Regions from separate parts of the Homo sapiens genome. Here region 1 is linked to region 2. Evidence: fine-mapped QTL for protein levels in blood plasma. Region 2 holds a variant in brackets. A gene starts in the other region. All regions are shown on their reverse strands.

The links. PIP is the posterior inclusion probability: the model's chance that the variant is causal. The UK Biobank Pharma Proteomics Project read protein levels with antibody pairs (Olink). The fine-mapping took linkage between variants from a reference panel, not from the people measured, so its PIPs are less certain.
Region 1: it holds the start of SPESP1, and the variant in region 2 is fine-mapped to the plasma level of the SPESP1 protein (UK Biobank, PIP above 0.99).

The regions. Positions count from the first base shown.
Region 1 is chr15:68,923,902-68,940,454 of GRCh38, reverse strand. SPESP1 (sperm equatorial segment protein 1) reads right to left here and starts at 9,930. Exons shown (of 2, transcript NM_145658.4): 1 at 9,738-9,930. The coding sequence starts at 9,801. SPESP1-NOX5 (SPESP1-NOX5 readthrough) reads right to left here and starts at 9,930. Exons shown (of 17, transcript NR_033672.2): 1 at 9,738-9,930. RefSeq lists a silencer at 13,054-13,254.
Region 2 is chr2:151,383,458-151,400,010 of GRCh38, reverse strand. No RefSeq gene overlaps it. Among named protein-coding and RNA genes, the nearest start is that of RIF1, 18 kb to the left of the region's middle. The variant A/G (reference allele first, on the strand shown) is at 11,319.

The DNA.
Region 1 (16,553 bases), not on the chromosome of region 2:
CTAACCAGATATTTGATAATATTAAGGAATTATTTTTATAAGTAAAAAATTACATTGTTTTGTGTTTTGTAAAGTCCTTATATTTTAGTGCTTCATGCTGAAGTATTTGCTGATAAAATTATAGGATGTCTAGAATTCGCTTCTACATAATCCAAGCCCGAGAAATTGGGGAGAGTGTCCAGGGAAGTGAGAGGAAAAGGAATGTGGGTAGAGCTATCAATGAAATAGGATTAATCATGAATTAATAATAACTAAAGCTAGAAATCACCACTAAAGAACTTACCCATGTAACCAAAAACCACCTGTTCCCCAAAAACTACTGAAATGCTAATAATAGTAATAATAACTGAAGCTATTATAAATATGTGGAGATTATGTAATTCTTTGTACTTGTGTACATATTTAAATTTTTCCGTAATAAAATGTTTTTTTAATCTGAAAAAGATTTTAATTCTGAGCAACTATAATAAGTAAATCTAAAATGTAAAACCAACAAAGGTTTCAACGCTTTTAGAAAGACATTGCCATTAGATTATAGGCTGCTAAACACTTGCTTTTCAACCATTTAGCTTGCCTCTTCTCAAAGTAGTAAATAAGATACCCAGGTGGATATTAGGTGAGTTAGAGTGCCAAAGGACAGGAAAAGGAGATACTTACTACTAGCTGATTCCTTAACAAACTGAAATATTTATTATCCCCTTCTATTGTTACTCAGGCAACACCCAAAAGCCTGTTCTTGGCTGCCTAGCAACAGAGTGCACTACCTCCTACCTCGATTTTCCTCTGTTCTTCATGTACCCTTGGCTCCATATTTTTCTATTGTTAATTCCATCCTCTCTCCACACACCTTCTACCTCCTGCTTTTGTCCCCTAAAACATCTCCCTATTTCATGTTGACCTTCTCAGTTCTACTAATCAGGTCTGCTCTTGCAAATCAATTTGATCTTTATAAAAATGTTTGTAGGTCAAGGTAGTAAAAGATAGTGGAGCCTCAACTGTCCCTACAGATGGCTGTGGCCACTGTGAAAACCTGTTTTTCTCCATTCTTCAGGAGGTGCTAGAAAGCTGAACAAAATTCAAATTCTTACAAGGAACAGACAATCTTGCTAGAAGTTGTGTTATTATACTTGGATATTCATAGTCTACACTGGTATACTTTATAATATCCCATCTATTTTTACCAGTAAGTGATTAAAGCAAACATGGCAATGTCCTAGAACATGGCTCTGGCCCAGGTAAGAATCTTCAGCTTGGGAAACCATGATGCTGCTCTCCAGTTCCTCTTATAAGCAGGATGGCTAACTGCTAAGCAGGCTTGAGATTTTGCTGGAATCTCAGATATGGGGCCTGAAGGTGAGCCTGAGGTTGCCTGCACTTCTCTTCTTGAAATAGTACAGGAAGAACTGTCACACAACAGAAATGGTAAGAAAGTAAACAAAATGGTACTAAATAACTGTAGGAACAAAAGTGGTAGGAAATCCAAAGGGGAAATGGAAGATAATGATTTAAAAGATCCTAATAGCTTCCACTGATTGAATGATCACTATGTGCCAGGCACTATACCCAGAGCTTTGACTGTGAGAAGTACTTTGTCAAAGAAGAAAAGGAAGAGACTTAGAAAGGATAAGCAATTTGCTTAAGATTATATTCAACTTATAAGTAAGGATGAGATTTGAACACAGGCTGCCTTACTTCAAAGCAGGTGCTTGTAACAACCACACAATGTTGTCATAAAGAAATGACACAAGGATGCTGGCAAAGCTGTATTAGTGTTGTGATAAAATTATTCTGCAGGGATACTACTCTGTTTTAAAATACATGTGAACATTAAATAAAATCAAATAAATAAATATAGTATCCGAAATTGTGCTGTCAACTGGACCAAAATATTTTAAACTACATGTAAATATTAAAATTAAATTAAATTAAATATGACCAAATTTTGTTCTATCATCAAATGGACCAAAATGCATCCCTTTCGCATATTAAGATGTATCTAGTAATATTGAAAATAATCCAAATACAGTATTTTCTTACTACAAAGTACAAGTAACTGACAATCAATGACTTACAAAAAAATACATCCCGTTCACACAGAAATAAAAGGCAAGTTAATTACTTTTGAGTTTATTATGAGGAAAATAATAAAATCATGATTTAAAATGAGCAATGAAATATAAAATTTCAGGCTGCGCTTGGTGGCCCACGCCTGTAATCTCAGCACTTTGGGTGGGTCAACTAAGGTCAGGAGTTCGAGACCAGCCTGGCCAACATGGTGAAATCTCATCTCTACTAAAAATACAAAAATTAACTGGGCATGGTGACATGCACCTGTAGTCCCAGCTACTCTCGAGGCTGAGGCAGGAGAATCGCTTGAACCCAGGAGGCAGAGGTTGCAGTAAGCCAAGGTTGTGCCATTGCACTCCAGCCTGGGGGACAAGAGTGAAACTCCATTTCAAAAAAATAAAATAAAATAATAGATAAATAAATAAAATTTAAAACTTCACTCAATAAATAATACATGTGAAATATATTTCCTTTTCATAGAATGACCAATTAAAGGAGGAAGAGAATAACATAAAAGCCAATTTGCATGAAAACTTGCTAAAATTCATTGTTCATAAAAGATATGCAAATTAAAAACAATTTTTGTTTTGCCAGTCAAGTAGGCAAATATTTTTAAATGATAAAACCTAGGACTGGCATGTGTATATGTTACTTCCTTAGTAAAATAAGTTCCCTCCTACCCAGAGAGGAGAACAATAAAACCCATTTCCCATATCCCCTATACCCCAGCCCCTGGAGAACACACACCACCGCCTGTTGGTGGGTGGGGGGTGAGGGGAGGGAACTTAAAGGATGGGCCAATAGATGCAGCAAACCACCATGGCACACGTATGCCTATGTAAGAAACTGCACGTTCTACACATGGATCCTGTTTTTTTTTTAGAAGAAATAAAGAAAAAAAATAATAAGTTCCATCCTTACTCCCCTTTTGATCCCTAGATCCTTCTTTAGTCTCTCTCTAGCATACTGATCTTTTCTTTATAGAATTTAGACAGTTCTAACTGTATTTGTTAGTTTAATATTTGTTAACTGTTACACTTAGTAAGCTCTTTGAGAGCTGTGACACATCTAATTTGTTCATTATATACTCTGTTTTACCCAGTGCCTAGAACCATACTAGACAGTCAAAAAGTATGAATAACTGAATGAATGAACAGAATGCTGGAAGGTATGTAAATTAATTGCACTTCTAGTAATTTATCTTACTAAGATAATCACAGGTAAAACATTTCTACAGAAGAATACAGAGGAAGAAAACTAGACTTCATGTTATGTTTAAAAATAAATCTGTTAGTCTAAAAACTATTGTGTGGGGAGCAGTTTCTGGCTAATTGTCCAATAATTATTACAGAGAAAATTTTAAATGAGTAATAAGAATGTTCTTTTATTTTAGGCAAAGTAAGCAGTTTTTTATAATAAAAGACACAGCTTACTACGTCTTTCTAAATTTCTAAGTGTGAAGTTTATATAAAATAACATCATAAACATCATGGTGAAATAGCTCCATTTCTCAGAGAGCCCCCATACTTCTTGTAACTGCCCCTTACTAAATAGCCTAATGTAAGTTTAGATCACATAAACTTATGTTCTACTAATTACCTTTCATTGAATTTTATCAATCTCTAAAGTAATACTGCATTGACATAATTTTAATGTAAGTAAATCACAATCTTAATATTAAAATACCTCCATAATTTACCTTTTATTTATCTTAAAGTATGAAATTCAATGGTTTTCAGTATGTCCAGAGTGGTGCAATCACCACCACAATCTAAGTTTAAAACAGTTTTGTCATCCCACAGTAAAATCCATTTCCCATATCCCTTATCCCCCAGACCCTGGACAACCACTAATCTACTTTCTGTAGCTACGCATTTGCCTATGCTAGACATTTCATATAAATGGACTCATACGATATGTGTCCTTTTGTGAGTGGCTTCTTATACTTAGCGTAATGTCTTCAAGATCATCTATGTTGTAGCATGTATCGGTACTTCATTGATTTTTATGGCCAAATAATATTTCATTGTGTAGATACACATACATTTCTACTTTGCCCTTGGCCAGTAGCCTTGATATGGCAACTGCTGATTGCACCCAAAATTTAATCACCAATTATGGATGCTCATTTTGTTAAAGATTTGAATATAACTAGGATTTTTATTACAATGATAGTGAAAACAAAATGGCTTTATCCATAAAGAACTCATGTATATAAAACTTAAACATATACCCAAGCATCCATCACTTATAGATGGTCCACACACTCTGGCTGAATGTCCATAACTTTGGAGAACAAATTGCTTGTATTTTCTATACATACCATGAAGTGGACTCATAAAGAATAAACTTCCCTTATTCTACAGCAGTTAAGTACTAAAGTAAGAATTAATAACTGAAAGCTGTAATAATGCAAGAACTACCAGTTAAAATATCCAACACCTTCAAATTAAAATGAACTTTTATGAAGGTTAAAATTTTAAAACGAACTGAGCTGGAGTACTGTATTTCCAACTCAAAGTAGTAATAATTGTGCTTAATTACTGAGGTGTACTCAAGGAATGGTCATAAAAGGAAATATTAAATCTTCTTATTCATCCAGCAATTTTCTTATAATTTATTATTACACAAATCTTAATTTTTGCTGACAGGTAAATAAACAAGTAATTATGTTCATATTAATCAAGTGTTCCAGTTAAAGAAATGTAACTTTATGGCTTTACACTTCCTGCTATTCATGTTCTTGGGTAGTGTCTTCTGACATTGGATATGGGCTTGCCCCATGTGACTTGTCTTGGCCTATAGGACATTAGCAAGTCTGATACAGTGTAGGCTTCGTAAGAGCATCCATGTTGGGGCTTATAAATCTCCTTCTTGGAAGCAAGCTGCCATGGTGTAAAGAAACTTGGGCTAGAGTACTGAAAGATGAGAAGTCATGTAAAGACCCTGGAGGATGAGAGGCCATCTGGGATGTTCCTATCCATTTGAACTTCCAGCTGAATGCAGCTGCATGAGTGACCTCAGCTATACCATATGAAGCAGAGCTGCCCAGCTGAGTCTAGTGAACCCATAGAATCATGAAAAATGATAAATTTGGGGAGCAGTCATTTTTGCCACAATACACAACCAAAATAGCCTTATTAAATTATGTTACAATTCTAGTGCGGATAAAGAGTTAAAAATCAAGATGCATCCTATGAGTAATGTTATAATTGAAACCAAAATAAACTCATTATTTTAAATCTTTCTCTTCTAGTTCTGTTCACTAAAATGACAAAAATAACAATATTTCCCCACTGCAGTAGTCTAGTATGTATCGCAGGCACTTTGGTCTCTCATACCATGTTCTCCATCCCCTTGGAAAGACAGTTAATTCCATTCAGAGTGAGAAAGATAGAGTGGGAAAGACACAAAGTGGGCTTGGAACAATCAGTTAACATCAGAAAACAAGAAGTCTTTAAAAATATATGGGATCCTATCAAAAGAACAAGAGAAGACAGCTTACAATGGCTCCAAATGGTCAAGGTATGAATATTTGAGGCTCGGAAAAAACTATACTTAGGTTAAATAAATTGTGTGTTTTTAAAATGCTTCAAATATATAGTGATACTAAAAAAAAAAGAAAATATTTTCTTTTCAAATAACTAGTATTTTATTTGGAGATAAAAAATGTTGCTTAAGTTTAATTTCACATATATTATCAAGAGATTAAAGTATATCCATTTAAGGGATAATATGATCAACAGAACAGAAAGACAGGACTTTTTTCCCCCATAAAACATCAATGGACAGGCTAATGAAACTTCCTGCTACTCCCCCACAGAATACTCTCTTGACACTTGCCTATTGGATGACATGCTCCTCATTATCTCAAACATTAACAAAGTGTGTCATGACAGTTTATTCACAGGTTTGAGAGACCTTTTAAATGCTGTAGCCTTGGGCACTAGCTAAGTGAACTTGCAGCACCAGAACTCAGTGAACTTTACCTTTAGAATGTATTTGAAATAAAAGAATATTCTTTTCCTCTTAATTTATTTGGTGATAGATTCAAACAATTGTTGCTGGTTGCTGCCTTATTGTTTCCCTTACCTTCTGTGGTTCATTAGGACAAAATCCTTCCTAAACACAATGACAGAAGCCAAAGACTGATACATTGAGCCTTCTTATAATACCAATCTAGAAATAAGAGCTTTTGTAATCCTAGACTAACCCTATTTTTCCTAGTCTATACCAAGAGATGATCTAGAGGAAATAATTTATTTGGGAGATACCCCAAAATTAATATTTTAATTTTATTTATACTTATTATGCAAAGTTTGAATCATTTAAAAATTAACATATATTAATATTAAATTAATATTAACACACTTTAATTTTAATTAGTTTGCACTGCCAGCCCATGAATATTTGATGACTTAAAATTTAAAAAGGCCAATTATATAATTTTAATAGTAGTTGATATTATTTAAATATGTAACTATTATGTTAATATTACTTTAGAAGTTACTGTGCTTTTTTTTTTTTTTGAGACAAGGTCTCACTCTGTCAGCCAGGCTGGAATGCAGTGGCGCCATCTCAGCTCACTGCAACCTCTACCTCCTGGGCTCAGGTGATCCTCCCACCTCAGCCTCCCGAATAGCTGGGACTACAGGCCTGCCCCACCACATCTGGCTAATTTTTGTATTTTTTGTAAAGACGGGGTTTCGCCATGTTGCCCAGCCTGGTCTTGAATTTCTGGGCTCAGGTGATCTGCCCGCCTCAGCCTCCCAAAGTGCTGGGATTACAGGTGTAAGACACCGTGCCCGGCCTGTGCATTTTTTTTTTTTTAAAGCAAAAAGAATTCTCATTAAAAAGTAAAGTAAGTTGCACAGTGCAAATACATTAAAGAGGGAATACATTAAATACTTTCCCATTCAAAAATTTAAAAATGGCAAAGTATTTAAAACTATGGAAAAATCAGGTAGAGGAAACTGAATGTATAAAAATTTTATATAGTAAAACGTTGTTTCTCCAGCACCATCAGGATGTGTGTGTGTGTATGTAAAGGAGTGCCGACTTCTGTATACCCAAGCTGCATTTATGTCTAACTGAATTTAGATTAAACAAATACTAGCTAAGCTTGGATTGGGCCTGTTAGAAAGGTATAGGCAGATACAAGAAGTACTGAGGTTTTCAATAAATGCAATTACTTAATACACCCGTGATGTTTGCGTAATAACCTCAAAACTGTCTAGTAGTCTAGAAAAAATGTGTCAAAGCTGCACTTTTCATTATAAAAACCTATGTACCTTATCTTTTGCATCTCGCCAACAATTGTTTGAATAGTGGCCATATAAAAGAATGCATAGCTGATTTACATCAAGCTCAATGATATACGCATTTTGGTATACTTATTTTAAAAACAAAATTAAAATTAGAGAAAAAGTAGAGAGACAGATACAGAGAAAGCAGCCATGTACCACTGCCTGCTCTATATATTCCTTAATCCACTTCTGTAGAAGAAAGGTAATTACATATTCCAAGACATCTTCTATGATTACAACCTGTATATAGTTTCCTTATGTCTTATAACATCTATATATTCAACACAAAATCACTCCTTTTTTCTGGGAAGCGTCTTTTCATTTCCTACAACCCTTTTCTTTCTTCCCAAGAAAGATTAGGGAATAGGGTGCTAAGAAAGACAACAGGCTGGCTGGGCACAGTGGCTCAAGCCTGTAATCCCAGCACTTTGCAAGGCCGAGGCGGATGGATCATTTGAGGTCAGGAGCTCGAGACCAGCCTGGCCAACATGGTGAAACCCCGTCTCTACTAGAAATACAAAAATTAGCCAGGCGGTAGTGGCGTGCGCCTATAATCCCAGCTACTCAGGAGGCTGAGGTGGGAGAATCCCTCGAGCCTGGGAGGCAGAGGTTGCGGTGAGCCGAGATCGGGCCACTGCACTCTAGTCTGAGCTAGAGAGTGAGACCCTGTCTCAGGCAAAAAAAAAAGGGGGGGAAAAGGGAAGGGGAGGGGGAGGGGAAAATTATGGTGTTAGGCAAGAGACTGCACTGAGTTAAGTGGGTGTCCAGGGACTCCTACCTAGCAGTCCCAGAGTGTACTGTGTGACAGTGTTAAAGTCACTTCAGTTAAAGTCTCCATATATGTTAGTCACTTGTGACTTGCTGATCTACAACTACCAAAATGCAATAACTGGTGTTAGTAATAATGATCATCAGACATCAAGAAAAGATAGTAGCATCTTCATTATGTTCTGGTCCTCTATGTCAAGGAAGAAAAATTTTACAAAACTTTTTATTAAAAACAGCTACAAATCATAAATGCTAGTATTTAAAGAGCTAACTTTAGTTACCTAGAACTTCATCTAGAACTTTTCCCATTACTATTCATAATTTAGATTGTGTTGTATTTTCAGTTTTTAAATTTGATTTTTAACTAAGATCGTTTAGCAATTCTGAAAAATAGATTTGCATAATCAGCATGCACGATAGCGCTTTTTTTACACCTGTTAAATTGTATTTATTGATTTAAGTGAAACCAAACTCCAACATTACTAAATGCCACAATGAACTACAGTTAGACTAAATGGGGAAGCCTCACCTACCTGACTTAAATACTAAGTGCCTTAAGGTGCCCACATGATATTGTTAATATAGTAAAGTCTTAGCACCCCTGAATTTGACCTTATTGGTTTTCAGCTTTCGGGGAGGGACAAAAATTGCTCCTTGGCAGGTCTTAAGTTATAATCCTGCTTAACTAAGGCTTTGAATGCCGTGTGCGCAAGCATGCTCTCTGGGAGCGCATCCTCAGGTGAGTGTCCCAGACCGCGACCCACAATCCACATGCTCTCCAAATTTTACCGTACGGGTCAACCTTTTTTTCTGTACAGGGCCAGAGAGTAAATACTTCAGTCTTTGCAGACCAGACTGTGTGGCAACCACTTAACCCCGTTGTTCTAACGTGGGAAAGCAGCCATGGGCAATACGTAAAGGAATGAGCGTGGTGGTGTGCCAGTAAAACTTTATTCACGAACAATGAAATGTGAGCGTCATGCTTTTCCACAAGTCATGAAAGAGTACATTTCATATTTACTTTGAAAATGCAAAAATAGAACATCACACACCAGGGCCTGCCGTGGGGTGGGGGGAGGGGGGAGGGATAGCATTAGGAGATATACCTAATGTAAATGACAAGTTATGGGTGCAGCACACCAATATGGCACATGGATACATATGTAACAAACCTGCACGCTGTGCACATGTACCCTAGAACTTAAAGTATAATAATTAAAAAAAAAGGAAGAAAATGTAAAAATCATTCCTAGCTGGCCAGCAGCTGTCACACGACCCCTGCACGGTCACACGCCCAATGGCTGGGGAAGGATCGGGTGGGCAGAGGAAGGCCTCCGGTGAGGTGAGGGGGTTCCACCCGCGCCCACGGCCCGCAGGCGCTTCCCGTCTCATCTGGGCCGCGCCGCCTCAGTTGCTGCGTTCCCTGACCAGGAGAGGAGAGGGACACCCCTCGGCGTCGAGGCCAGGACCCCGGACAGTGGGGGAGGGAGGCATGTAGGACCAGGGAGAAGGAAGGGCCAGGCTTCGAGGTCGCGGAGCTCGGGAAGTTCCCCCAGGGTGTCCCCGGTCCGCTGCCTCCTCAGGCCCGTCACTCACTCGGATAAGCCGGCACAGACGAAGGCCATAGCAAAAGCGCAACTAGAAGGACTAAGGGCTTCATAGGCGTCGTCCGTAGCACTCTGCCATGCGACCGGAACGTCCTGGGGCCACCAGGCTGGGAACCTCAAGGCCGAAAGGGAAGGTGTCAGCGGAGTACCGTCCTGCCTCAGGCCCTGGGACACCCAGCAACGGTTGTCCCCAGCGCGCAAGCGCAGCGGCATGGGGGAGGGGAGAGCGAGCGGCCAAGGCCCGCCCCTCCTGGGACCGCGTGCAGGGGGCGGGGGATCGCGCGCGCCCCGCCCCGCCCCTTCCTAGTGCGCATGCTCGCTCCGCCTTCGTAGGTCCGCGCCTGGTGTGGGCTGGGAACGCCTCGACGCCCGGCTACTGCGTGCGGGGTGCTGCCTCGGGGCGTGCGGGGCTCGGCCCATCCTGCGCGGTAGGGATACCGCCGTGGTTTAAACGCGGTCCCTGTGAGGAAGGAACTGTAATGGGAGAGGCAGATAACCTGGCAATTACCACAGCGTGAAAGGGGGCTGTAGTGGGGGAAGCGCTAGGTACTGTTGTGCACAGTGGAAACCCACCCCCGGAAGCGGGTGGGGAGCTTGGCTAAGTGGAGGACAGCTTGGAGCACCCCAAGAACTGAGCATAGTTCCGGCGAGTTGCATTGTGGGGCTTGGGAGGGCAGTTGTTGGAGGACAGGGAGGAGAGGTAGGCAAGGGCATTAAAAACGCCCTAAGGGGCTTGGGTGTTTTTGTTTTTCAAAAGATCACATTCCATTTCTTTGACCTTCTTAAAAAGATAGGGGTAGGGATGAGGGAGAGTACGACTATGAAAGGATAGCATGAGGTTGTTTTGGGGACTAATAGATGGCAGTGGCCACAAGAATCTATACATGTGTTAAAATTCACAGAAGGCCGGGCACGGTGGCTCACTCCTGTAATCCCAGCACTTTGGGAGGCCGAGGTGGGCGGACCACCTGAGGTCAGGAGTTCGAGACCAGCCTGACCAACATAGTGAAACTTCGTGGCTACTAAAAATACAAAATTAGCCAGGCGTGGGTGGTGGCACACGCCTGTAGTCCCAGCTACTTGGGAGACTGAGGCAGGAGAATCACTTGAACCCGGGAAGCAGAGGTTGCAGTGAGCCGAGATCGTGCCACTGCACTCCAGCCTGGGCGACAGAGCAAGACTCCACCTCAAAAAAATAAATAAAAATAAAAATTCGCAGAACTGCACATCCCAAAGAATCTGTTTTTCTGTATGGTTATTTTTAAAAATTCACGTACACTCATCTCTGCCTCAGGAAGCAAGGGGCTTGGATTTTAGTCTGAGGCACCAGTACTAGAGTACTGCTAGGTTTTGAGCTGGGAACGGTTGTGATTAGATTTGTATTCCAGAAAACTCACTCTTCCTGTAGCATGAAGAATGGACTGGAGGGAAGCAAGACTAGAGGCGCCGGCGGAAACTGAGACTGCGCACGGCGCTTGCGGGCCAGCCCGAGTTCCGGGTGGGCGTGGGCTCGGCGGGCTCGGTGGGCCCGGCACTCAGCGCGGCCGGCCGTCCCCGCTGGCCACGGGCAGTTGGGGGGAGCTTAGCACCTGGGCCAGGAGCTGCTGTGCTCGATTTCTCGCCAGGCCTTAGCTGCCTCCCCGCAGGGCAGGGCTCGGGACCTGCAGCCTGCCATGCCTGAGCCTCCCTGAGGAGCGCCGCTCCCTGCTCCACGGCGCCCAGTCCCATCGACCGCCCAAGGGCTGAGGAGTGCGGGCGCAGGGCCGGGGACTGGCAGGCAGCTCCACCTGCGCCTGGGTGTGGGATCCACTGGGTGAAGCCAGCTGGGCTCCTGAGTCTGGTGGGGACTTGGAGAACCTTTATGTCTAGCTAAGGGATTGTGAATGCACCAATGGGCACTCTGTGTCTAGCTCAAGGTTTGTAAATGCACCAATCAGCACCCCGTGTCTAGCTAATCTAGTGGGGACTTGGAGAACTTTTGTGTCTAGCTCAGGGATTGTAAATGCACCAATCAGCACCCTGTCAAAACGGACCAATCAGCTCTCTGTAAAGTGAACCAATCAGCAGGATGTGGGTGGGGCCAGATAAGGGAATAAAAGCAGGCTGCCCGAGCCAGCAGTAGTAACCCTATGGAGTCTCTTTCTGTCGTGTGGAAGGTTTGTTCTTTCGCTTTTTGCAATAACTCTTGCTGCTGTTTACTCTGGGCCCACACTGCCTTTATAAGCTGTAACACTCGCTGCGAAGGTCTGCCGCTTCACTCCTGAAGCCAGTGAGACCACGAACCCACCGGGATGAATGAACAACTCAGATGGGCCACCATAAGAGCTGTAACACTCACCATGAGGGTCTACAGCTTCACTCCTGGTCCAGCTAGACCACGAATCCACCAGAAGGAAGAAACTCCAAACACATCCGAACATCAGAAGGAACAAATTCCGGACATGCTGCCTTTAAGAACTGTGACACTCACCACGAGGATCCACGGCTTCATTCTTTAAGTTAGACCAAGAACCCACCAATTCCGGACACATGTTGAGGAACCAATGTCTCCAGCCAACAGCCAGTAAGGACCTGAGGCCTGACAACAATCAGGTGAGTGAACTTGGTAATAGATTCTCCCCAGGTGAGCCTGGAGTTGACCACAGCCCGGCTGACATCTTGATTGTAGCTGCCTGAGAAACCCAGAGATGGAGGCACCCAGCTAAGCCACGCTTAGATTCCTGACTCACAGAAACTGTAAGACAGTAAGTGCTTGTTAAATGGAGGAGGAGAAAGCATTTGCGTAAGCAATAGCTACATACAAGGGTCTCTGTTGATTTGTTCCTTGAAAGAGACCATGCTTGGAAAGGCACCTGCAGTTGGGTACACTACTTAATTGAGTTAATAATTGTCAGTCATTCTTCCAGGTCCATCTGTTTTCATTACCAGTCAAGCTGGAAGGCAGGTATAAATTAAGATAATTGATTCAGATATTTTAGGGTGACACTATAGCTAGTCAACAAGGGATTGTTATAACTTGTGCATTACTATTTTGATTGGGGGTTGGAGAGTGTAATAAAGCTCTGTGGATTCTTCATAGTCTTTTCTATCTTGCTCACCCTTGTTCTAAAGGTTAGGAAACCAATGTGAAGATTCTGCCTTATGTCCTTTAAATGTACACTCAGGAATTGGGGAAAAAACACTGGAAGGGTTTAGGGTTCCATCGAACTTACTGTAAGGTGGACTTGGGTTAAAATTCCTTTAATTACTTCACCCCTGTAAACCCCACTCTAACCAGTGAACTACTGTGGCATACTGCGATTTTCCTTTTTTTTCAGTGCATATTTATCCCTAGATGATCACTGGTCCCTTTGGAGAAGGCTAGGAGTTAAGAATCACAGCACATACTTATCTCATTGTATTACTACTGAATTCGTCAAGGGTTTCCTGCTTTCCCTTCACTTAGGAGACTGGATTTGTGAAACACACTGCAGTTTGGGGATTGAATGAGGAACTGCAAGTGAGAGGTTCAAGTAGGATGTCTTTTAGGCCCAGAGTTGGAGTCGTTTTTCCCTTGTTTGGTTATAAAAACCCCAATAAGACTTTAGCAGTTTTCATCTTGTTAACCATTAAAAAGGAAACGGTGAAATAGCCAAGGTATATCCTAATTGTGGAATTCCAGTTTAAAAAAAAAAATGTTGTAGCTCTGTACTCCATGGTCTATGTGCTAACATATAAAATTCTCTAAAATATGGTGTTGAGTAAAAAAGTTCAGAAAAACACATATATCCACTTATGCAAAATTACACCAGTTACATATTTCCATGAATTCATCTGAAATCATTCTGGAAGGAAACACAGTAAGCTGATAATAGTGCTTACTTCCAGAAAGAGAAATGAGATTGGAGGAGAACAGGGGATTTTGAAGGGAGAATTTTGCTTTTTACTTTTTCTTATCCCTTGAATTTTTTGAAGCAAGATTACTCATGTAATTAAAAATAGAAACAGTAACTTTTTACAAAATCTAGTGAAGAAAGGAGGGCTAGTGGTAGAAATGTCTTATTATGCCTCATGTTTTCCTTTACTGACTTCACTGAAATATTTTTGAAGTGGCTAATTCACTACCCAGAGAAAAGTAGCCTGCATTTCTGCTTCACCTCTGGATTCTGTAGACTGTTTTGATAGGTAATCAAACAGTATCATTTACTGTTATGACTTTTTTTCAGGGATGTATTTTATCTCCCCTTTATAGTTGTTTTTATGCTGTCTATTTTACACAACACCTTGCTGGTGCTCAATAAAGACTTAATAAATAGCAACACATGCTCTTCCAACCTAAAGGAAAAGAATCCTTCCCCACTTTCCCCCACCCTCTTCCCCTAGAGCTGTCAAAATTCTGTTTCAAGGCTCAAATGCCACATCTGCTGGGAATCTCCCCTCCATCATCCCTCCAGTTAGAATGTATCATATCTTCCCTATCCCATATTTTCATAATGCTGTATTGTAGCCATTATTTCACCATAAATTCTGTATTTTATGTTTTTACAAGCCAGGCTTCTCTAGACCAAGGTCTTTGAGGGAAGGAATCTGATCTGAGTTATCCCTGCATCACAACCTCCTAAAACCCAGCCAAAGTAGTGTGCATTCATCAGGTGCTCAATAAATGCATATTTGAGTTCAATTGAAATCAAAAGACTGGGAATTTTTATAGAATCTTAAAAAGATCGCTGGGAATCTTGTAGAATTTTTACAGACCCTTAAAAAGAGCTAACAATACTAACCCAGCTACAGTGACAACTTCCAGCACAATCTTCAATCTCCAGAAGAAACTCCTCATCTCGAAGTGTCTTAACTCTATTATTTAAGTCCAGGTGAAACGAATAACAGGTGGTCTCATCTGTTCTTCTCTCTGTATATCATGCAAGTAATTCTAGACAATAAATTCCTGATTGTGAAACCACTATGTCAAAATAAATGTACCAGTTTGCATATCCATCAATAGTATAGTAACTAATACTGAGTGGCATCATCTTTGAAGACCAGTCACGTCAAGTGCCATATCTTGTTTTAACCTGTTTGACTTTGTTTTTCAGTGTAGCAAAGTGTTCTGCCTACTCTCCCTGTTCCCACCTTGGATTTTCCCTGTATTCCTTCTAGTATACATCTAACCCCACACTTACTGTTTTTTATTCTTTCTCCTGTTAACCCAAGTGATGAGTTAATAGGCTATGGGTTAGCCAGAGCTATATTTGTCTCCCTAGAAGAAGTATATTTGGGAAGTCCCTCCCCTCTTATCTTAGGTCACTTCCTTAATCCTTTCTTACCCCGCCCACCCCACCCCCCTCCCCGCCCCGTCCCGCCCCGCCCCATTCTCCTGGGACCAATGCACTGAGCAGCTAGGACCACAGCTCTAGCTTAATTAACACCAATGCAGTTTTTTACATCTCAGATCTCAAACATCATGTCTTAACAGCTCTTGGCCCCATGTGTGGAAAAATAGTTGAAATTAAATACTATTAAATGAATGAATACCCCAATCCCTCCATGCATTTATCCATCCATCCAACTATTCATACATCCACTCTGCCCTTGTAAAAATCACTGTAACATTATCAGCATGAGAGCACCGGCAGCTTTGTCAGAGAAGGACTTCAGCCACCCGGGGGCAGTAGAGCCTCACCAGTGGCTGGGATGGCACTTGTGGTTACATCAGAGCATCTCTCCAGCTGTGACTCTAGAAACTGAATTTTGATTTTGCTGCAGTAGATCATGTTTTGCTATTGTGTGTTTTGCTTTACTCTCATGCACTTGGAACGTACCAAATAGCATGTAATAATGTTTAAGTGATTTAATAGTAATAGCCTTTGTTTTCCAAAGAAGATTTTCTTCAGTGCCGGCTACGTAGAAGAATGTTACATCCAGTCTTTTCTCTGACAAAGCTAGTCCACATGCAGTTACATTATAGATAGTCCTTGGCTGAAATCAATTCATGAAATGAGACCTGGGAGCACACAGAAGAAGCAGGCTGACCCTTGGGAATGCCCACTGTCTGCACGATCTGCCCCACCTGATGTAGGCAATATACACTTTTTAAATTTTTTAAAAATTGTATTTTTTTAACTTTTATTTTATATTCGGGGGCACATGTGCAGGTTTGTTACATAGGTAAACTCGTGTCATGGGAGTTTGTTGTATACATTATTTTATCACCCAGATACTAAGCCTGACATCTGGGCCCTGAATAGGCTCTGTGGGATGTTTTTGATTAATAAATGGATGGCAGAGGAATCCTGGAGTGTAGATGGTGATCGCTGGGAAGGGGTTACAAGTGTGTGAACCTCACAGGATTTTTAGCTCTGTCCAGGAAAACCCTCTTTCCTGTTGACTCTACCAAAGTCAGTGTGCATCCCTGTGAAAGTCTGAAAGTATAGCTGGGGACTTACAGAGATGCTAGGACAATGATTTATTGTCCTGTGGACTCATCCAACTAGGAGGGTCCTGGAATTCTAAAGGAATACTCAATACAAATTTAATTTGTATTCACTTAGCTTTTGTAAAATTATGTCCTCACTAAATAGAAAGATTCTTAAGGCAGAGACCATGTCTTTTTGTGTTTGTACCCCAGGGACTTTTCACAGTGCCTGGCAGAGTTTGGACACTACGTATGTGCTGAATAATATGTGAAATTTTCTGATGGGTGCCACGAAGTCAAATAGAAGATGACTTTGGGTAAGGAGAACCTTAATCTCTGAATCTCATTGTGCTTATCCCTAAAATAAGAACCCTTTGTATTTGAATTATGCTTAAGTCTAAACCTTACATATAG
Region 2 (16,553 bases):
CATGTGCTATAAATCTTCAGGAAAATGTTAGCCATTCAAACATTATTTCTTGGGTTTAAATAGAACAACACATTTCAAAACCATGAATCCTTCTAAATAAAGAAGCATTTTTCAGGCCGGGCGCAGTGGCTTACGCCTGTAATCCCAGCACTTTGGGAGGCTGAGGCAGGCGGATCAGAATCTCAGGAGTTTGAGACCAGCCTGGCCAACATGGTGAAACTCTGTATCTACTAAAAATACAAAAATTAGCCAGGCATGGTGGCAGGCACCTGTGATCCCAGCTACTCCGGAGGCTGAGACGGGAGAATCGCTTGAACCCAGGAGGTGGAGGTTGCAGTGAGCTGAGATCGCACCACTGCACTCCACCCTGGGCAACAGAGCAGGACTCCATCTAAAAATAAAAATAAAAATAAAAATAAAGAAGCACTTTTCCATTGAAATGGGTTTCCTAGACCACATTAAAAATATGGGACACTCATGCCTGTAATCCCAGCACTTTGGGAGGCCGAGTCGGAAGGATTGCTCGAGCCCAGGAGTTTGAGACCAGCCTGGACAACATAACAATACCCTGTCTCTCTCTTTTTTTTTTTTTTGAGACGAAGTCTCGCTCTGTCGCCCAGGATAGAGTGCAGTGGCATGATCTCAGCTCACTGCGACCTCCGCCTCCTGGTTTCAAGCGATTCTTCTGCCTCAACCTCCCAAGTATCTGGGATTACAGGCATGCGCCACCATGCCCGGATAATTTTTGTATTTTTAGTAGAGACGGGGTTTCACCATGTTGGCCAGGCTGGTCTTTAATTCCTGACCTCAGATGATAGGCCTGCCTTGGCCTCCCAAAGTGCCGGGATTACAGGTGTGAGCCACCATGCCTGGACTTCCCTGTCTCTTAAAAAAAGGGACTACAATCTATCAGTAATAATTTAATGTTATATTTCTGAAAGTGTGGTTCTGGGATCATTGCGTCAGAAAATCCCAGGTTAGCTTCTTTATATGTAAATATCTGGACCATACCTCTCAGGATAAGCCTACTAACCTACATTTTTGATATGCAGTCTAAATTATTCTTGGCAGCACCAAAGTTTGAGATTCCTGCTATGTTCAAGGCACACGTTTTCTATAACTTTGATAAAATAGTTCAACTATTAAATTTATTGTAATTGGAATACAAATATCAGTTTCCAAAAGAACCCAACTATGTATGGCACAAATTCTTTGTCTCCATCTAAAATATATTCATGGAGAGAAAACAAAAATTTTCAGAAGTTCAAGAGCTACAAAACTATGAAAACTGAACCTTGAGGAGCCAAAAGGGAAGCCTAACTCATTGTTATGCTCAGGCCTTCTGGAGAAAGAACATAATCACGCACTTTAGAAAAATGATCCAGTTTGAAGCTGGGTGCGGTGACATGCACCTGTAGTCCCAGCTACTCAGGAGACTGAGGTTGGAGGGTCCCTTGACCCCAGGAGTTTGAGGTCAGCCTGGACAACATAAAAAGACCTAATCTCTTTGAAAAAATGAAACAAAATAAAACAAGAAAAGAAAGCAAATCCAATTTGACTTCATCATCAGGGCTACTCATAGGCAGGATTAATCACTCTCTCTTGATCACTGGTTGAAGAAAATATTTCTTAAACTGCCTATTCTAGTAGACTAATATAATTGAAAAATTAAAATCCTCTAACTGTACTGTGGAAAAAACAGAATTTTGACCTAAATTTGTAAGCCTGATAATCTGCAGTCATAGGATATTGGTAGAAATATAAATTAGTGGCCGGGTGTGGTGGCTCATGTCTGTAATCCCAACACTTTGGGAGGCCGAGGCAAGTGGATGACTTGAGGCCAGGAGTTCAAGACGAGCCTGACCAACATGGTGAAACCCCATCTCTACTAAAAATACAAAATTAGCCAGACATGTTGGCACATGCCTGTAATTCCAGCTACTCAGGAGGCTGAGGCAGGAGAATCGCTTGAACCTGGGAGTTGGAGGTTGCAGTGAGCCGAGATCGCGCCATTGCACTCCAGCCTGGGCGACAGAGCGAGACTCCGTCTCAGAAAAAAAAAAAAAAAAAAAAGAAAGAAGTGTAAATTAGTATAGCCTCTACTGTTGAAGGACATTTTTCAGTATTTATCTAAATTAAAAATTCCCTAAGTCTTTGATGCAAAAATTTCACTACTAGATGATAATCCTACAGATATACACATTCATGTGCAAAATAAAGTATGCAGATATTTGTTCATTGCAGAATTGTCTGTAATATTAAAAGATTAGAAACAACCAATGAGGACATGTTAAGTAGATTAGGGAACATCTACACTATATAATACTTTGCAGCTATTAATGTCCAGTACTAATATACACCAATATCCAAAATATATTTAATGAAAAAAAGGTTCACTAAAAGGAACCAGATTCAGGGAGAACTGGCCAATTCCAGGGCTGAGGCTGAGAAAGTAAAAAGTGCTTAGAAAATGATGGGAACGTGTTAAAATGACTCGGGCCAGCCAGAAGGACTCCCACTGGCTGAATCTGGAACAATGAATTATAACCCATTGATTGAAAAAAGAGCCCATACAGATACTAAAAATGTGCAGATAAAGAAATAAAAGAAGGAGAAGGAATGTCACAGCTAGGAAATCACCATTTTGCAACAATGACATTAGTAATAATTGATTCAGGCAATAATCAGTAGGTGTTAAAACCATTGAGTAAAAGTTTAATGAAGAGCAGTTTCAAAATATCCCTCCATGATATATTTTTTAAGAAGAAGAAACGGTAACTTCACAGTGGAGACACCTAATGAATATCACCAAAACTGGTAAAAGCTGATATCACTGAGATTCCCTGATATGATTCACTGAGGAAACAACATCACTTCTACCTTCATAACCTAAATCTATCCATGAAGAATCAGAAAAATTCATATTGAAGGATGTTCTGTAAACAGAAAACAAAAAAACAAGTCCAACACAAAAGTGGCCTGTACTCTTCAAATGACAATGTCATAAAAGACAAAAGACAAAGGAAAACAGAACTGTTTCAGAATAAAGAAGACTCAACAGTCATGATAACCAAATTCAATGCGTGATTATGGATTGGAAACAACACGTTTTGTTTAAAGGAGTCGTGAAATTTAAAAAAAGACTAAATTTTCTACATTTGATAATTGTGCTGTGGTTATGTAAGAAAATCAGAATAAGAACTCACAAACAGGAAAAGATTGTTCTGTGAGCCATAGAACCAAGTAGCAACCAGAATGAATTTTGTTTTGCTCTTTTTTTGGAGACAGAATCTCCCTCTGTTACCCAGGCTGGAGTTCAGTGGTGCAATCTCGGCTCACTGTAGCCTCCACCTCCTGGGCTCAAGAGATTCTCTCACCTCAGCCTCCCAAGTAGCTAGGACTATAGGCATGCACCACTACGCCTGGCTAACTTTTGTATTTTTTTGGTAGAGATGGGGTTTCACCATGTTGACCAGGCTGATCTCAAACTCCTGACCTCAAGTGATCCACCTGCCTCGGCCTCCAAAGTTTTGGAATTACAGGCGTGAGCCACCAGGCCAGCTCAGAATGAGTTTTAAACTCGTTCATTTGATAAACACAACTCACCTCCGTGAACTACTTTTGCAAGCTAACCAATCAGCATCAGCCTCTCATGTCTGAAAGTCAACCAACCAGAGATGAACTCACTCCAAAAAAAGATGTCTGAGTACCAGCCAACCAACTATAGTAGCATCCGAGTAACCAAGCTTTTAAGGATCCTGCCATCCCATTTATACCTCTGAGAATCTACCCATCCCTGAACTCCATGCTTCCCCCAAACCCTATAGAGTCCAGCAGTCTGCCCTGCTCAGACTCTACCTGACCAGTATAGCTTTCCATTACTGTAGCATGCAAATCCAGCTTTGTCTTTTTGTTTAGATACTGAGTGGTGGTCTTCTAACTCCACCAGACCAGTCAGGCTCAACTTAGGTAACAAAGTTGTGAGTTCTTTTTCAGTTGCCAAAGACCTCCAGGTTGAAGGTCATGTAACCTGAACATGCACAGATGAACCAAGCCTACAACCACTGTCAGAACTTGCTTGCCTGAGGAGTGGGGACTGAATCAAGTGGACGCCACATGGCAGGATCCAGGATCCAATCAGATTGAGCCCTGGGGTCACCCCATAGCAGTATCCAGTTGGATCATGCCTCCCAGCATCACCTCATTGCAAGAGCCAATCAGATCACCCTTCATTACCCTATGCTTATAAAACCTGAGCCAGCCCTCAGCTTGAAGAGACAGACTTGAGCACTTCCTTCTGTTACCTTGCCAGTTGACTGGCACTAAAGCTTTTCTTTTCTCAAAAGCTGCTGCTGTGGTATTGCCTTCTAAGAGCACTGGGAAGTGAGCCCATTAATTGCTCGGTAGCAGTCTCATCCTTTAGTAATTCTGGAGGTTCCACCAAGATCATTTTGAAGACTCTTGGTTGGCAGTATTCCAGGCAATCTTCAGACCAACGGGTGCACTTACTGGGCTCCTTCTATCTAAGTTTCGTTGGTCTACCAGATCAGCTGCCATATGAAATCAGTATCAATAACCATTTGAGCTCTGTTTCCATTGAATCCCTATTACTGCATTTATTCTTCTATTCTAGGATTTATAACTAAGGAGATCCATTAGGACTAGGTGTTTGTACCAAGTAATTAGACAACTTTTGGTTCGGAGAAGCACCATTTACTAATCAGACCCAGGTATTTAATAAGGTAATTATTCCTTTTACTCTGGAGGTGTACCATTTGAAAATGTTTGCCATTAATCCACTTATTCTCCTGCTGCTTGCTTTTTTCTTTTTTTTTTTTTTTTTTCTGAGACAGAGTCTCGCTCTGTCACCCAGGCTGGAGTGCAGTGGCACAATATCAACTCATTGCAACCTCTGTCTCTCAAGTACAAGCGATTCTCCTACCTCAGCCTCCCGAGTATCTGGGTCTACAGGTATGCACCACCACGCCTGGCAAATTTTTGTATTTTTTGGCAGACATGGTTTCACCATGTTGACCAGGCTGTCTCGAACTCCTGACTTCAAGTGATCTGCCCGCCTCAGCTTCCCAAAGTTCTGGTATTACAGGCGTGAGCCACTGTGCCCAGCCTAAACTACTTTCTGTCTCTATAGATATGCCTATTCGGAACATTTTATGTAAATTGAATCATATAACATATGACCTTTTGTGACTGGCTTCTGGCACTTAGTATTTTGTTTTCTAGGTTTATCTACATTGCAGCATTATCGGTACTTCATTCTTTTTGATGGCTGAATAATATTCCATTGAATAGGTATACCCCATTTTGTTTATCCATTTATCAGTTGATGGATATTTGAAGTTGAATTAAAATCCTAGTCTAGAGCCAAATTAAGGACCATAATTAAGAAATTATAGTCTTCAGAGAAATAGCCAAAAATGTGCTATAGAATCCAGGTTTGTAAAAGATGAGTGTTGTTCTAAACTATAGACCTGTACGAAGTAAGTCAATTAATTGTAAGACCTACCAAAAAGAAAAATGTCTAAAAGCAGCAAATCATGAAGGAGATTTAAATAATGCAACTGTAAAATGTTTTAAATATAAAAATATACACTAAATAAAGCAGTTATAGAAGCCTTTATTTTAAGGATATAATAGACAAAGATTAAAGATTATAAATTAGATAAAAATAAAAAATAAACTTTGGGAAACTTTCAGTATTCTGGGTTAGATCTAGTATCTGAAGTAAAAGGGGACTTACCTTCTCTTTTTGTAAATGGGCTTAAACCTAATTTAGGGGATTTAATTTTTTTAATGAATTAAAAATATATAATTGCAAGCTTAGAAAAATATCAACTATATGGTCAACATTTTCAGACATCTTTAAAATATAAACAAACTGGAAATCAATACTTGTTACGGCACATTGTATTAAATAACCCATAGTGTCTCTGTTCTTTAAGATGTTGAAGCCTGTAGATAAGGACATTTGTAAATATCGTGAGCAGAAGGGCCATTAAAGAAACTAACGTGGCCGGGCATGGTGGCTCACGCCTGTAATCCCAGCACTTTGGGAGGCCAAGGTGGGCAGATCACGAGGTCAAGAGTTCAAGACCAGCCTGACCAACATAGTGAAACCCCGTCTTTACTAAAAATACAAAAAAAATTAGCTGGGCGTGGTGGCATGTGCCTGTCATCCCAGTTACTCAGGAGGCTGAGGCAGGAGAATCACTTGAACCTGGGAGGTGGAGGTTTCAGTGAGCCGAGATCGTGCCACTGTACTCCAGCCTGGTGACAGAGCAAGACTCCGTCTCAAAAGAAAAAAGAAAAAAAAAGAAACAATGTATCACACTGGGTAGCTAAAAAACAGGACAATTATCCAAAAATCCATCTAGTCATGTGGCTCCAAGGTAGACATGAGCACCCAACAATTCCGAGTCCTTTTTCTAATTCCCAAGGGAAATAAAACAACTTTTCTGCTTAAAAAAAAGTTTTTTTTTTCCTCTGAGAGAGTCTTGCTCTGTTGCCCCGGCTTGAGTGTGGTGGCCCATCTCAGTTCACTGCAACCTCCACCTCTCGGGTTCAAGTGATTTTCCTGCTTCAGCCTCCCAAGTAACTGGGATTACAGGCATGTGCCACCACGCTCAGCTAATTTTTGTATTTTTAGTAGAGACAGGGTTTTGCCATGTTGGCCAGGCTGCTCTGGAACTCCTGACCTCAGGTGATCTGCCCCTTCGGCCTCCCAAAGTGGCCGGGATTATAGCCGTGAACCACTGCTCCCAGCCAGAAAAAGAAAATTTCTATTAAAAATGACAGTGCCAGATTGCTTTACCAAAAAAAAGATAAGACAGATTTGAACATACATAGTAAATTGTGAAAGACTTAAGGAAAAATAAACATTATTTACCTTGGTTTAATAGAACCACCCAAGTAGTAAAAATCTAACAATTTAATGTCTCAACTATAACTGATATTTTGAGATCATTATCAGAAGAATATTCTTTATTCTCTGTGATAGAAATTGTGCAGAAAACAACATAGGACCCCTGAACTGCTATCCTCGGAATAGCCCAATTACACGATTGTCCCTTAGCTGGCATCTAGAAACTTAGATCTGGGGAGGGTTTTCAACATTTAACTGATAAGAGTGGCTCATTGTACCTAAAACTGTACAAACAATGTGTTTTTTTCTGAATACTTGCTTTTCTTTCTGAGAGTTTGGAATTTGTGTACATGCCAGGCAGGGGATGCCTACATGCTTACCCCCCAATAGAAGCTTTGGGCACAGTGTCTCTAGTGAGCTGTCCTGGTTGGCAACATTTCACATGTATTGACACAACTCATTGCTGTGGAGATTAAGCAAGTCCTATGTGAATTCACTGAGAGAAGCACCTTGGAAGTTTGTGCCTGGTTTCCCCTAGACTGTGCCCAGGTGACTTTTCCCTTTCCTGATTGTGCAATAGGTCAGTAAAGACATATATAGATATCATCTATATGCCTTAGCCATGAGTATAACTATATGCTGAGTCCTGTGAATCCTCCTAGTGAATCATCATACGTGGGAGTGGTTTTGAGGACCTCTAACCCAAACATCTGGACAGGCGCGGTGGCTCACGCCTGTAATCCCAGCACTTTGAGAGGCCAAGGAGGGCGGATCACCTGAGGTCAGGAATTCGAGACCAGCCTGGCCAACATAGTGAAATCCTGTCTCTACTAAAAAATATAAACATTGAAAAAAAATACTTATTACAACTTCAATCACTTTTACCTTCTACCTTGCATTTCTGGTTTTGTAAGAAACATCTCATATACTAGAGCAGTTTTTCCCTCTTCTGCCTACAATATGTGAATGAGCTGTTGATTCGACATAATTATCAAGTACGGTAGTCCCTCCCCTTCTCTGAGGGGATGTTTCAAGACCCCCAGTGGATGCCTGAAACTGCAAATGGTACAGAGCTCTGTATATACTATGTTTTTGTCCTGTACATACATACCTATGATAAAATTTATATTTAGGCACAGTGAGAGATTGATAGCAATAACTAATAATGTAATAGACCAATATACTCTAATAAAAGCTATGTAAATGTGGTCTCTCTCTCTCTCTCTCTGTGTCTCTCTCTTTTTCTCTCTCAAAATATTGTATTGTGCTATGGGCAGCAGAAACCATGGAAGGACTACTGTATTTCAATATATTAGTGATGTGGAAAGAGCTGCTTTCAAATGCAACTGGCCGCCTAGACCCAGCCTTCTGAGGTTTGCCAGTAACTGCTGCCTGTGTACCTTGCCAACATCTGATTCTCTGTAATATTTAAAAGGACTATGCTGTCTTACGTTTTCCAATTGCCTTTGGGGTAGGTGCTGTCTTCTACATCTTGAATAAACCCTTACAAAGGGGAAGCTTTGTGGGAATCTATTGGGAAATGTTTTGAGACATTGATTGGAGCCCTTGAGAGAGAATATTTAGCAGCATTGTCCAAGAACATTGTGGTCATTTTGGATTAAAAAGAAACATACCAAACAAAATTTAAGTTAGGAGAAAAGGCAATTTTCTAACAGACAATGTTTTCTTAGAACTGACATACCTTAGGCTTCTGTCCAAAGTGTACCATTTAATATTTTAAGCAAATCTTTATTACTCTAATTCAAATACGGATACTTTCCTCCATAAATGAGTGTGTAAGACATATTTGTAATTGCTGCAGTTAACATTAAATGTTTCTAGCCTTAAATAGCCTCCCTTTGATCAATTGTTTCCTTATATTCTTGAATTTACCATTCCTGAACAGTTCATTATTAATATAGCTACGACTTATAACAAATTTGTCCAGTAGACTCTGGCAACAGATGGCATTTTCATTTTAGAAAGTCCAAATACTCTGCCTACATTATTTCAGATGGTACGTTTGTGGAATAAAGTATTGAAATATGCCATATAGTCCTCTAAGAATACAGCTTTAGAATAGGAAACAAATTTTTCCAAATACTCAATGATATGTAACATAGTACGGTATCTACTATGATAATTTTTGGACATAGATATTGTGCCTGTATGTATTCTGTTTCATGCCTCTCCACTTCAAATCCTCCCTTCATTGCCTGCCCTGTGAAAATGGAGGTGAGCCCTTTAAAATTTACTCTTTACCAGCCTGCACACTCTGTTAAGCTTTGTCAATAGAGGGTGATGGCTGGGGATGCGGTGGCTCACGCCTGTAATCCCAACACTTTGGGAGGCCGAGGCGGGTGGATCACTTGAGGTCAGGAGTTCAAGACCAGCCTGGCCAACATGGTGAAACCCCGCCTCTACTAAAAATACAAAAATTAGGTGGCAAATGCTTGTAGTCCCAGCTACTCAGGTGGCTAAGGCAGGAGAATTGCTTGAACCCGGGAGGTGGAGGTTGTAGTAAGCCAACATTGTGCCACTGCACTCCAGCCTGGGCAACAGAGTGAGACTCTGTCTCAAAAAAAAAAAAAAAAAAAAAAAAAAAAAAAGAGGCTGCTGGAGAGATGGGGAAGGGACTTTCCTTCCTAGTTTCAGGGTTCCTGCTTAGCAAGTTCCTGCAGTGTATGTGGTTCATGTGGCTCCTTCAGCACCTAGCTCCTGCAGTGTCACGGGGTCAGGAGCACCCAGCAGCCAGCAGCTTCCCCTGGCACCTGCCTCAGATACTTTTGTAATGGAGGGTCTTCCCTAAGACACCTCTCTTTGAACAGCATTCCCCAGAAGCGTGCTTTCCAGCGAGTTCCACCAGTGCTGTACCACAGCAACTTCTCTCCATCTAGTGAGCTAGAGTCACCCTCTCCAGCAAGTTCTGGATCTCAGTCCTGGGGGCTGGAGGCTCCTCCTTGAGTGCTCTTTCTCATAGCTGCTCTGTATATCTGCTTATATCTCCTTATGTGTTTACTTTTCACTAGCCAATCTCTCATTACTCCATTCCAACGTAACAGTACTAGCATAGTAATTATTTTTCTAAAAAATATATATATTTTTTTGAGACGGAGTCTTGCTCTGTCACCCAGGCTGGAGTGCAGTGGCGGGATCTCAGCTCACTACAACCTCCGCCTCCTGGGTTCAAGCGATTTATCTGCCACAGCCTCCTGAGTAGCTGGGACTACAGGCATGAGCCACTGTGCCCGGCTAATTTTTTTTTGTATTTTTAGTAGAGATGGGGTTTCACCATATTGGCCAGGCTGGTCTCGAACTCCTAACCTTGTGATCTGCCCACTTCAGCCTCCCAAAGTGCTGGGATTATAGGCTTGAGCCACCACGCCCAGCCAAAAATAATGCTTTATATTAAATGTTTCCCTGTTCAAATTTCCATGTGGATTCTGTCTCCTGATTGGACCATACTGATACAGATATGAAACATGTATACTCTATCACCCAACTCTTGGCAGATAATAAGAATGTTTATCCTGAGCCAGACAAGGTGGGAAGGTGGCACCGCCTATAGTCCTAGCTACTTAGGAGGCTCAGGTAGGGGGATCCCTTCAGCCCAGGAGTTTGAGGCCAACCTATGCAACATAGTGAGACCCTATCTCTTAAAAAAAAAATTAAAAGAAGAGGCAGGGCATGGTGGCTCATGCCTGTAATCCCAGCACTTTGGGAGGCTGAGGCAGGTGGATCACCTGAGGTTAGGAGTTCAAGACGGGCCTGGCCAACATGGTGACACCCCGTCTCAACTAACAAAACAAAAAATTAGCCAGCCGTCGTGGCAGGTGCCTGTAATCCCAGCTACTTGGGAGACTGAGGCAGGAAAATTGCTTGAACCTGGGAGGTAGAGGTTGCAGTGAGCTGAGATCGTGCCACTACACTCCAGCCTGGGGAAACAACAACAACAACAACAACAACAACAACAAAAACCCTGTCTCCATAAATAAATAAATAAATAAAATATGTAGTATGTAGTATGCTAAGTAGTTGATCAGTTCTAGGGATTTTTTTAAAAAGTAGGAAAGAGGATATAAAATTTTAGGGAAAAGGTGGTTGAAATAAAGGGCCAGGAAGACTTTACTAAGAATATGGCTTTTGAGTAAAGAGCTGAAGGCAACAAGGGAGTGAGTCATGTGGCTATCTGGGAAGAGTACTCCAGGCAGAGGGAACAGCAGGGATCAAGGCCCAGAGTTGAGAGTGTGCTAATACGGCACAGTACAAACACCAGTGTGTCTGGGGTGGAGATAATGGTGGGAGGTGGGACGAGGGGTGACGGGAGATGAGATGACAGAGGTAAGAGGGGGCCAGATCATGATGGGCCTTCTAGGTTACAGGATGGGCCTCCTAGGTCACACTGACTTTCTTCTGAGTGAGACGAGAGGCTGTCACC[A/G]TTACAGAGAAATAATATACTGTTATTATAAATGCTCTTGTTTGTGCTTGAAAAATACTAAAAACTAAAATACTTGGTGTTTTAGAAGGGAAAAATAAAAATAATTCTATTAAGATTATTTTGTAAGTGATCCCCATTCACTTTCGCAGGGATAGAATTTCAGAAGGCAATGTGAAAATGAGCTGTGTACTGAATTATACACGTATATTTATTTTAAATGAACATATTGACTCAATTAAAGCTAATACCACGAAACTTTGCCTTTGGCATCATGAGACTCACTGTGAGGTTATTAAAACTTAGACAAAATTTAAAAAGTAAAAATAAAAAACTTAGGTACGTAGTGATCTTATTTATAATTGACCGTAAAGTAAATGCTCAAAAATGATGATTTGTATTTTACAAACACTGTTAAGGATTTGGCTCTTCCAGTGGAATCCCAAGAGCCTGTGTCTTTAGGGAGTTTACTTTTCTGCACTTACGCTTTGTGGGATCTGATTTCTTCTAGTGGTTTGCTTTGTTGGGCATTTGTTTAGAAGGAAACAAAATAGCTATGGATATATGCTTTAGAAATCTAAAAAACAACACGAGACATGAAAACAACTTGCTTTCACAATAACAGAGGAAGAAAAAAGTTTTTTTGAGGAGGAAGAGTTGAAAAACAAATTCCTGAAAAACTTCCTTTTAAAAAATATTCAGTCCAAAACCTGAACTCAAATGTTATATTAAACAAAATACTGAATATATACATATACCAACATCGGTACATTTGTTTTATTTTCAGAGAATGATTTTAATATAAAGAACATATTAAATTAAAAGTAAGCATTACTTAAAAAAAAAAACCACCTCCAAACCCACACATAAGCACAGCAAAGAAAAGAGTAATAGAGAAAAGTCTACAAATAAATCTGAGCTGATATTAAATTAAAAACATTCAAATAAAGTAGAATTACTAGACACCAAGAATAATAAAGCAGACATGCAAGAGGATGCTAAGTTGAATAAAGAAAATTAAGTTTTAGACCAGGCGCAGTGGCTCATACCTGTAATCCTACCACTTTGGGAGGCCAAACCGGGTGGATCACTTGAGCGTAGGAGTTCAAGACCAGCCAGGGCAACATGGCGAAACCCCATCTCTACCAAAAAATACAAAAATTAGCCAGGTGTGGTGGCCGTGCCTATAAGTCCCAGCTACTTGGGGGCCTGAGACAGAAGGATTGCTTGAGCCCAGGAGGTTGAAGCTGCAGTGAGCTGTGACTGTGCCACTGCACTCCAGCCTGAGGGACAGAGCAAGACCTTGTCTCAACAAAAAAGAAAAAAAAATTAAGTTTTAAAAATATTTTTGGGCCAGGCGCAGTGGCTCATACCTGTAATCCCAGCACTTTGGGAGGCCAAGATGGGTGGATCACCTGAGGTCGGGAGTTTGAGACCACCCTGGCCAACATGGTGAAACCCCGTCTCTACTAAAAATACAAAAAATTAGCTGGGCGTGGTGGTGGGTGCCTGTAATCTCAGCTACTCGGGTGGCTTAGGCAGGAGAATCACTTGAACCTGGGAGGCGGGGGTTGTAGTGAGCCAAGATTGCACCACTGCACTCCAAACTGGGCGACAGAGTGGGACTCCATCTCAAAGAAAAAAAAATGTGAAGGTAAGAGCAATTTACTGAAAGAATCATCTATATATATTATAAGGATTTCTTTAAATCAGTTGTATAACCTATTTTTATAGGTCTTAGGATATATAATTATAATGTATCTTAAATCTTGCTAGTAAGGTTTATAAGTGATTCAGCCAAATCTGCAGAAGTCATTGTAACCTATCTCTAACCCTACGCCTACTACACTATTGAGATATGGGGGAACCTAGGTCAGCAGTAGTAGATGGTATTTAACATCATTTGAAATATTTCCACACATTTGTTTTTTATTTTTATTTTTGTTTTTTTGAGACGGAGTCTCGCTCTGTCACCCAGGCTGGAGTGCAGTGGCACGATCTCGGCTCACTGCAAGCTCTGCCTCCCGGGTTCACACCATTCTCCTGCCTCAGCCTCCCGAGTAGCTGGGACTACAGGCACCCGCCAGCACACCCGGCTAATTTTTTGTGTTTTTAGTAGAGACGGGGTTTCACCGTGTTAGCCAGGATGGTCTCGATCTCCTGACCTCGTGATCTGCCCGCCTCATCCTCCCAAAGTGCTGGGATTACAGGCGTGAGCCACCGCACATTTCCACACATTTGAATATTCTCGGGAAACCCTAAAGGACTTACATTTATCATCCATATCAATAATAAGAGTGGCTGGGCGTGGTGACAGAGTGAGACTCTGTCTCAAACAAATAATAATAATAAGAGTGCATTGTACTTTTTAAATTTGCACACATTCTTCAATTTTCTATAAATATTACTCCCAAAGAGAACCAAAAAAATGAGAATTCTGATAAAGAACAAAAAACCTATGGAGGTGAGGAAAACAAAGTAAAAAAAATCCATAATCAAGAAAGTGAAAAAGTATTAAATGTAGTAAGAAAACATATAAACAGAGAAATGTTATACAGGCCTTATTTAATATTCACCTTTAACATTAAGTTAATTTCTCCAAGTTTAAAAAAATAACAGTCTTCTGTTCATGGCTTCTTGTTTATGCTTTGTTATCTAGAATTATACTTTAATTCCTCAAAGTTTAAGTCTGCATGAAACTGATTATTAAGAGATGCATTACCTTTCTATCACTGCTGTAAAACATTACAACACACTTAGTGGCTTAAAACAACACTTATTTATTTATTTATTTATTTTTGAGATAGAGTCTTGCTCTATCGCCCAGGCTGGAGTGCAGTGGCACGATCTCAGCTCACTGCATCCTCTGCCTCCTGGGTTCAAATGATTCTCCTGCCTCAGCCTCCCAAGTAGCTGGGATTATAGGCATGCGCCACCATGCCCAGGTAATTTTTGTATTTTTAGTAGAGACAGGTTTTCACCATGTTGGCCAGACTGGTCTTGAACTCCTGACCTCAAGTGATCCACCCGCCTCTGCCTCCCAAATTGCTGGGATTACAGGCGTGAGCCACTGCGCCCGGCCACATTTATTATCTTACAGTTCTGTAGCTCAGAAGTCCAACGCGGGTCTCACTGGTCTAAAACCAAGGTGTTGTCAGGGCTGTGTTTCTTTCTGGAGGCTCAGGGGAGAATCTGTTCCTATACCGTTTCTAGTTCCCAGCTGCAACCCACGTTCTTTGGTTCATGGCTTCCTTCCTCCATATTCAAAGCTAGCAACATAGCATCACTGTGACCCTGCTTTGTTGTCACCTTTTTTTTCTCTGACTCTCTTTTTATGCTTCCTTCATCCACTTTTAAGGACCCTTGCAATTACATTGGACCTATGTGTATAATCCAGGATAAGCTCCCTATTTTAAGGCACTTAATTACATCTGCAAAATTGCTTTTGCCATGTAAGATAATATAGTCACAAGTTTCAAGGATTAGGACTTAGACATTTTAGAAGGATGGAGGATTTCTGCCTACCACAAAAGGTTATGTTTAAAATCCCATTGTCTGACAACTACCTCCTATCTCTCCATTCATTCTCTCTTATACTCTGATTCTACAGTCTTTGAGCCTTTGTGGGAGCTTCACTTCATCAAGTCTACCACTTTTTCAGTGTGCCTTATTTACTGATGTCCTCTCTTCCCTTCTAATTAAACTACATTCTGGCCGGGCATGATGGCCCATGCCTGAAATCCCACCACTTTGGGAGGCCAAAGCAGGCGGATCACTTGAGGTCAGGAGATTGAGACCAGCCTGACCAACATGGTGAAAACCTGTCTCTACTAAAAATACAAAAAATTAGCTGGGCATGGTGGCGTGTGTCTGTAATTCCAGCTACTTAGGAGGCTGAGGCGGGAGAATCGCTTGAACCTGGGGGGCAGAGGTTGCAATGGGCCGAAATTGAGCCACTACATTCCAGTCTGGGTGATGGAGTGAGACGCTGTCTCAAAAAAATAAATACATAAATAAGTGAAATAAGAAATAAAAATCAAAAAAATCTGCATTCCATGGGTTTTTACAATCCCTCCTTTAAGCATGCACACTTCTTCCTCCCTTGCCCCTTTCTTGTTATACTCACACGGCAAAAACCCAGCAGCGGTTAACGCAATTCTCCCTCTAGCCTGTCTTTTTCTCGTGAAGCTGAACGTGGCTAGAAGAAAACACCCTTGCTGACCAGTCTCCCGTTAAATTCCATGACCATGAACTTCAGATGGGCCCTTTGTGCTGCCTGGTAATCACATGCTATTTCCTAGTTCATTCACTTTCCCACTTTCCTAGAAGACTCTTTCATGCCTTCTCTCTTCTCAACCTCTCACATCTACCTTTCCATCCTCACTGTTGGCTCATGACTTGACTCTTTCTTCACTGAGAAATGCAAAGCAAGAAGAAGTTCCTGCAGATTCCTACCATCTATCTTCCCCACCTGTCGACTTCTGTGGCCTCACACTCTGCCTTCCTCCTAAAGGGTCTGGGGGCAGAATCCACAGGGTCGTGATCTTGCATGTGGGATTGAAAGTTTATTTCCAATGACTTTTATCTGAAATCTAGCATGTCTTTCAACTATGAATGTAGTTAATAAATGTAGCATTAGCAGTACCTGTGCTTTTAGCCCCGAAAGACACTACAGATATATGAAACAGTTTTTGTAGAACTCATAAAATATTGTATACGTGTATTACCACTTTGAAATTATTATTATTATTATTTTTGAGACAGGGTCTCGCTCTGTCACTCAGGCTAGAGTACAGTGGCAGTGGCACTATCACAGCTCACTGCAGCCTTGACCTCCCAGGCTCAAATGATCCTCCCACCTTAGCCTCCCAAGTAGCTGGGACTATGGGCACATGCCACCACACCCAGCTAATTTTTTTAGAGACAGGGTTTCTCCATGTTGCCCGGGCTGGTCTCAAACTCTTGGGCTCAAGCCATGTGCCTACCTCGGCCTTCCAAAGTTATGAGATTACAGGTATGAGCCACGGTACTCAGTCTACTTTGAAATTATGGTAGTTACTCGACCCACTGCTAGATCTTATATACAGCATTAATAAACACATGCTTTAATGTATCACAGTTTTTTTTGTTTGTTTTTAGATATGGGGGTCTCACTATATTGCTTAGGCTGGAGTGCAGTAGGGCTATTCACAGGCATAATCATAGCTCACTGCAACCTCAAACTCCTGGGCTCAAGCC